Homo sapiens: one gene and its partner. The protein of the gene in region 1 purifies or fractionates together with the protein of each later gene. This does not show direct contact. Each region holds a gene or a part of one and is shown on either strand. Other genes may lie near its edges.

Region 1 (3,651 bases):
TGTTATATAAATGGCAAATATTTTCTCTTAGTTTGTTGTTTGCCTTTTGACTTTGCCTGTGAAGTATTTTACCATAAATATATATCTCTTATTATTTTAGTTAAATGTATCAGTGTCTTACTGATTCTGGATTTAGAGTTTTGGTTGATTATGACCCTCCTATTTCTGGAAGTCATTTTTTATTCTTTTCCTATACAAAGCCTACCCTAGACAAGGTTTGGAAAAGTCTCTCTGCTTTCTGAGAGTAGATCTCTCTTATTCTAATTTAGTTTTTAGGGGGCCACAAGAAGATGCCAAATGTCCAAACTAAAAGTGATTCAGACTAAGATATGGGTGATTTGGGGTCTCCTGTAAGCGGAGTGTCACACACTGTTCACACAGATGAAGTGTTCAGTTCTTCTCTCTGACCCATGTGCCAGCAGCTGGTTGTCATTAACTCCAGTAAGCAAGTCTGCCTGGGCCTGCATGGCCAATTGGGAATCTGAGGGTAGATCACTTTCAGAAACAACTTTTCTGTTTACACAATTAATGAGGTCATAAAATGTAATGTCCATATTCAGAAGTCATAATACAGGAGTGTCATGTAAAATTTATTTATGTATTTATTTATTTATTTATTTATGAGACAGGGTCTCACTCTGTCACCCAGGATGGAATGCAGTGACCTGATCACGGCTTATTGCACCTTCCACCTCCCGGGCTCAAGCAATCCTCCCACCTCAGCATCCCAAGTAGTTGGGACCACAGGCATGCGCCACCATGCCCAGCTAATTTTTTTATTTGTTGTGGAGACAGGGTCTCACCATGTTGCCCATCCTCTATGAAAATGTTTCATTCATGTGATTGGGTCTTATTTTTTCTTTTCTTACCTTCTTTTGTGTATATGTATATTTTAAAGGCTATGGTAGAAACTACATGTTCTTCACTTAAGTACAAGTAAATCAATATCTTTGCCCTCCTATCTTTTCTTCCATTTGCCTTCCTCTCAACTTTTTTTAAACCTCAAGAGGCACCATTATTTTATACTCTGAAAGTTTCATTAAATTTACTCACATTTTTACCACTTTGTCCTTTCAGATTACCTTAGATCAGGGGTGTCCAATCTTTTGGCTTTCCCAGGCCACATTAGAGGAAAAAGAATTGGTCCACACATAAAATACACTAACACTAACGATAGCTGAACTAAAAGAATAAAAACCACAAGAAAATCTCATAATGTTTTAAGAAAGTTTACAGATTTGTGTTGGGTCACATTCAAAGCTGTCCTGGGTTACATGCAGCCTGCGGGCTGCAGGTTGGACAAGGCTGCCTTCGATGAAGATTTGTTGGAAAACTGTTTTTGGTTTGTCTGAATATGTATGTACGTATGTATGTATGCATGTATGTATGTATGTATTTTGAGATGGAGTCGCACTGTCGCCCAGGCCAGAGTGCAGTGGCATGATCTTGGCTCACTGCAACCTCCGCCTCTTGAGTTCAAGCGATTCTCCTGTCTCAGCCTCCTGAGTAGCTTGGACTACTGGCGTGCGCCACCATGCCCGGCTAATTTTTGTATTTTTGGTGGAGATGGGGTTTCATTATGTTGGTCAGGCTGGTCTTGAACTCCTGATCTCAAGTGATCTGCCCACCTCGGCCTCCCAAAGTGCTGGGATTACAGGCGTGGGCCACTGCGCCTGGCCAACATGTATTTATTTTGCCATCAATCTTGAAGGAAATTTTCACTGGGTATAGAATTTTGGGTTGTAGGGATTTTCTCTTGGATCATTGTGATGATCACTCCACTGTATTCTGGCTTCCACTGTTGCTTTTGAGAAATTGCCTGTTGGTCTAACAGGTGCTTCTTTGACAGTAATCACTCTTTTTTCCTTTGGCTACTTTTAAGAGCTTCTGTTTGTCTTGGAGGTAGGCATCCTCACTAAAGTGTATCTAAGTATGTGCTTTTATTTATCATGGTTGAGATTCTTTGGGCTTCTTAAGCTGCGGATAGGTGCATCTCATCAGTTCTCTTTGAAAATCGCCTCCACTGTCTTGTCTCTCCTCTCCTAGAGCTTCACTTAGGTTCTGATCATATTCAAGTTCTCACTGTTCTCCATGTCTCAACTTCTTTCCTGCATTTTCCATTTCCTTGTTGCTGTGGGCCACATTCTGGACAATTTCATTTCACATATGTTTCAGCTCACTGATTCTTCCTCCAGCTGGTCTAATCTGCTATTAAGCCTGTCCACTACACTTTTATTATTAAAGATTGTACTTAATTCTGTAAGTTCTATTTGGTTCTTTTTTAGATCTTCCAGGTCTTTTTATAGTTTCCTGTTCCTTGCATATGTTTTTAAAGTTTGTCTTTTTTTTTCCTTTAAACATAGGAAGAATAATTGTTTTGTAATCTCTCTGATAATTTCAGCATCTTAAGTCTTTGTGGGTCTGTTTTTGGCTGATTCTTGCTGGTAGGACCTTGCTTAGTTATTTTTGAACTGTGCCATTTTCCCAGGAAAGTTATTTGTGGGAGTTCTTTGAGGCTTAGGATGAAGGTATATGTTTCATGCCAGCAGAAACAGAAGGTAGATCTATTTAGAAAGAACAGTGTATTCTGAAACTTAATAGGAATGATTTGTAATTATAGTTTCACAGTCCTTGTTCCTGAACCCTTGATCCATATGTCTTTTGAACTGCTTTTATTTAATTTTTAGAAAGATAATGTGATGCTTGTATCACGTGACACTCTGTATTTTAGCACATTAATATTTCTGCAGTAAACAATATGCATAGTCAGTTTAAGAAGGATAGATACAGATCACAGTGGCCTCTTACTAACTTCAGTCAAATTTCTACTGCCAAATGACTTTTGATGTCACTTTTATGTTTTTCAAAAAATGTTTTATTTCATATTTTCTCCTGCTTTTCCTGAGCTGTATAAAAAGTTTTAAAATGTCAATTATACCTCATCGAGGCCTTAAAAAAATGTCTTTAGAGCTCTTAGAATTTCAGAATTGTGGATAAAGGTTTATGGCTGTGTGTGTGCTCCTTTAACCATGTACTCCATCCCTTTTATCCCTTTTGTGTGGTAGTTGGGACACAGGCGAGAAATAGATCTCTCAGGACTGTTTGGAGTTTGGCTACATAGGCAAAGATAAAAGTGCTCTCATGTTGTGAATATCGTGCTAACATTCTTCCTTGCCTTCTACCTGCTCTTGAAATATGATGTGCTGAGACTCAAGACTGGTGATATTGGCTAGCAGAGACCACCTATGGTATATTTGCTTTGTGTAAGAATAAAATGTCTACGTGTTTTTGTTTACATTTTTGTAGCAATACCAAGTTTCCAGGCCCGAAGAGCATCCCAGACTATTGGGACTCCTCTGCCCTGCCAGACCCAGGCTTTCAGGTAGGGGACGCATGCGCCTGGGGCTGGACAGGAAGGTGTTCTGTAGAAGTGGGTGTGTGTGAACAGACTGTGCCATTCCTCAACACTGAAGAAGCTGTAAGGCTGGGGCTAATTGGGGCAGGAGGGCAGTGACAGATGTGGGCTTTATTTTTGTTTTTGTTTTTTGCAGAGGGTTTTGTTTTTTCACCACCCAGGAGTTGGCTGTGGCTCTGAGGGGAGGGGTTGTCTTGTGGAGGGAGGAGGATGAGCGTGAAATTTGCTAGAAAGGG
Region 2 (3,651 bases), on another chromosome or scaffold:
GGTAAGCTGCTATAAATTCACAATCCCCAAAACTCAATGAACACTCCATATTGCCTGTCAGTTTCTCCAACGTTTCCATTCTCTAGTGACTACAGACGGTCCCTGATGTATGATGGTTCAACTTATAATTTTGACTTTATGGTGGTATGAAAGCCATAAACATTCAGTAGAAACTGTACTTCTCAGCTGGGTGCAGTGGCTCACCACACATGTAATCCCAGCACTTTGGGAGGCCAAGGTGGGAGGATCCCTTGAGTCCAGTTCAAGATCAGCCTGGGCAACACAGAGTGACCTCATCTCTATTAAAAATATTTTTAAAAAAATAAAAAAGAGGCCAGGCACTGTGGCTCATGCCTGTAATCCCAGCACTTTGGGAGGCCGAGGCAGGCGGATCACCAGGTCAAGAGTTCAAGACCAGCCTGTCCAACATGATGAAACCCCGTCTCTACTAAAAATACAAAAAAAATCAGCCAGGCATGGTGGCGTGCGCCTGTAATCCCAGCTACTTGGGAGGCTGAGGCACGAGAATCGCTTGAACCCGGGAGGCAGAGGTTGCAGTGAGCTGAGATCACGCCACTGCAGACAGAGTGAGACAGAGTGAGACTCTGTCTTAAAAAAAGAAAAAAAAAAAAAAAAAGAAATCGTACTTCTCGAGATGCTGGATAGCAACAGAGAGTTGCTGCTCCAAGTTAGCCAAGAAGTTATCTTGAACTTCTGAACTTATGATGGGTTTACCAGGATGGGATGTAACTACACCATAAATCAAAAAGCATCTGTACTGCAGCAAATATTCCCCATCCCAAAACCACTTCTAACTCTGAATTCTGTCCACTTCTATTTTCACTATCACCACTCTATTCCATGCCACACTCACTACTTAACTAGATTCCTACAATAGCTTTCTTAACTAGCTTTTCTGTCTCTGATCTTGTTTCTCTTCACTGTGGACAAAATAACTGCTATAAAAGAATCCTCAAATTTTACAGTACATAGCATCAACCTGGGATATTCTTTAATACATAAATGTCTGAGTCTCCAATGCCCCTCCCAAGAGTCTGTTTCAGTAGAGAATGGCTAATTGGATTTTCTGATGCAAGTGTTCTCTGGATCTGAAAAACACATCTTTAAAATTTAAATCAGACAAAGCATAGTGGCTCATGCTTGTAATCCCAGCACTTTGAAAAACCAAGACCGGCAGATCACTTGAGGTCAGGAGTTCGAGACCAGCCTTGCCAACATGGTGAAACCCCATCTCTACTAAAAATTAAAAAAACAAACAAACAAAAAACAGTAAATAAAAATTTTTAAAAAATGAATAAATAAATCCAATCGCATCACTTTTTTTTTTTGACACAGGGTCTTGCTCTGTTGCCCAGGCTGGAGTACAGTGATACAATCTTGATTCACTGCAACCTTCACTTCCCAGGCTCAAGCAATCCTCCCACCTCACCAATTAGTGGCCCCTGCTCACCAATTTGTCTTTATTTCTAATACCTATCCTGTCCCAACAATGCTCCAGTCACACCTAATTACTCCCAAGTTCCCAAACGCTCTCTATCTTCTCTATCTGGGCTTTTTCTCTTTTTAAAAAAATTTTGGGCCAGGCGCAGTAGCTCACGCCTGTAATCCCAGCACTTTGGGAGGCCGAGGTGGGTGGATCACGACGTCAAGAGATGGAGACCATCCTGGCCAACATGGTGGAACCCCGTCTCTACTAAAAATACAAAAATTAGCTGAGCGTGGTGGTGCACACCTGTAGTCCCAGCTACTCGGGAGGCTGAGGCAGGAGAAATCACTTGAACCAGGCGGGGCGGAGGCTGCAGTGAGCCGAGATTGCACCACCGCACTCCAGCCTGGCAACGGAATGAGACTCCGTCTTAAAAAACAAAACAAAACAAAACAAAAAAAATGGGGGGCACGGTGGCTCATGCCTGTAATCCCAGCACCTTGGGAGGCCGAGGTGGGTGGGTCACCTGAGGTCAGGAGTTCGAGACCAGCTTGACCAACATGGTGAAACCCCATCTCTACTAAAAACACAAAAATTAGGCGGGCGTGGTGGCATGCGCCTATAATCCCAGCTACTCGGGAGGCTGAGGCAGGAGAATCGCTTGAACCCAGGAGGCAGAGGTTGCAGTGAGCTGAGATCGAGCCATTGCACTCCAGCCTGGGTAACAGAGCAATACTCCATCTCAATAAAAAAAAAAAAAACTTAATTTTTTTTTTTTTTTGGCTGGGTATGGTGGCTCATGCTTGTAATCTCAGCACTTCAGGAGGTCAAGGCAGGAGGACTGGTTGAACCCAGCAGTTTGAGGTTGCAGTGAGCTGTGACCCCACAACTGCACTCCAGCCTGGGTGACTGGGCAACAGAGTGAGACCCTGCCTCTTTTTTAAAAAAAAAAAAAAAAAAAAAAGAGGGCTGGGCACAGTGGCTCACACCCGTAATCCACCTGTAATCCCGGTACTTTGGGAAGCTGAGGCGGACGGATCACCTGAGTTCACGAGTTCATGACCAGCCTGGCCAACATGGTAAAACCCCGTCTCTACTACAAATACAAAAATTAGCTGGGTGTGGTGGTGTGCACCTGTAATCCCAGCTACTTGGGAAGCTGAGACAGGAGAATCGCTTGAACCCGGGAGGTGGAGGTTGCAGCGAGCTAAGATCATGCCACTGCACTCTTGCCTGGGTTACAGAGCAAGACTCCATCTCAAGCAAAAAAAAAAAAAGAAAAAGAAAGTTTTTAATTTTTGTTGAGTACACAGTAGGTATATATTTATGTAGTACATGAGTTTTGTTTTTGTTTTTGTTTTTTGAGACAGAGTTTCCCTCTTGTTGCCCAGGATGAAGTGCAATGGCACAATCTTGGCTCACTGCAACCTCCACCTCCTGGGTTCAAGTGATTCTCCTGCCTCAGCCTCCTGAGTCGCTGGGATTACAGGCACCTGCCACCACGCCTACTTAATTTTTCTTATTTTCAGTAGAGACTGAAAATGGGTTTCGCCATGTTGGCCAGGCTAGTCTCGAACTCCTGACCGCAGGTGATTCACCCGCCTCGGCCTCCCAAAGTGCTGGGATTACAGGTGTGAGCCACCAAGCCCGGCCCATGAGATATTTTTATATAGATATACAATGTGTAATAATCATGTAAGGGTAAATGGGGTATGGATCGCCTCAAGCATTTATCCTTTGTTACAAACAATTCAATTACGTTCTTTTATTAATATATATATATACTTTTTTTTTGAGATGGAGTCTTGCCCTGTCACCAGGCTGGAGTGCAGTGGCTTGATTTCGGCTCACTGCAACCTCTGCCTCCCGGATTCAAGCGATTCTCCTGCCTCAGCCTCCTGAGTAGCTGGGACTACAGGGGCGTGCAAGCACGCCCAGCTAATTTTTGTATTTTTAGTAGAGACGAGATTTCACCATGTTGGCCAGGATGGTCTCAATCTCTTGACCTTGTTATCCACCCACCTCAGCCTCCCGAAGTGCTGGGATTACAGGCATGAGCCACTGTGCCCAGCCAATAGTTATTTTTAAATGTACAATAAGTTACTGGTTGACTGTAGTCACCATGTTGCAAATATGAAATTCTAGATCTTAGTCATTTTTATTTTTTAAATTTTCTGAGACAAGAGTCTTGCTCTGTTGCCCAG

The links. The genes of interacting proteins can lie anywhere in the genome.
Region 2: the proteins of PARP12 (region 1) and CASC3 purify together in Homo sapiens (co-immunoprecipitation; one large-scale study listed by IntAct). This does not show direct contact.

The regions. Positions count from the first base shown.
Region 1 is NC_000007.14:140,028,344-140,031,994, reverse strand, and holds part of PARP12 (protein mono-ADP-ribosyltransferase PARP12), read left to right. Parts: intron 1-3,306; coding exon 3,307-3,382; exon of another isoform or gene 3,383-3,383; intron 3,384-3,651.
Region 2 is NC_000017.11:40,143,419-40,147,069, reverse strand, and holds part of CASC3 (protein CASC3), read right to left. Parts: intron 1-3,651. UniProt on the Homo sapiens protein: Required for pre-mRNA splicing as component of the spliceosome. Core component of the splicing-dependent multiprotein exon junction complex (EJC) deposited at splice junctions on mRNAs.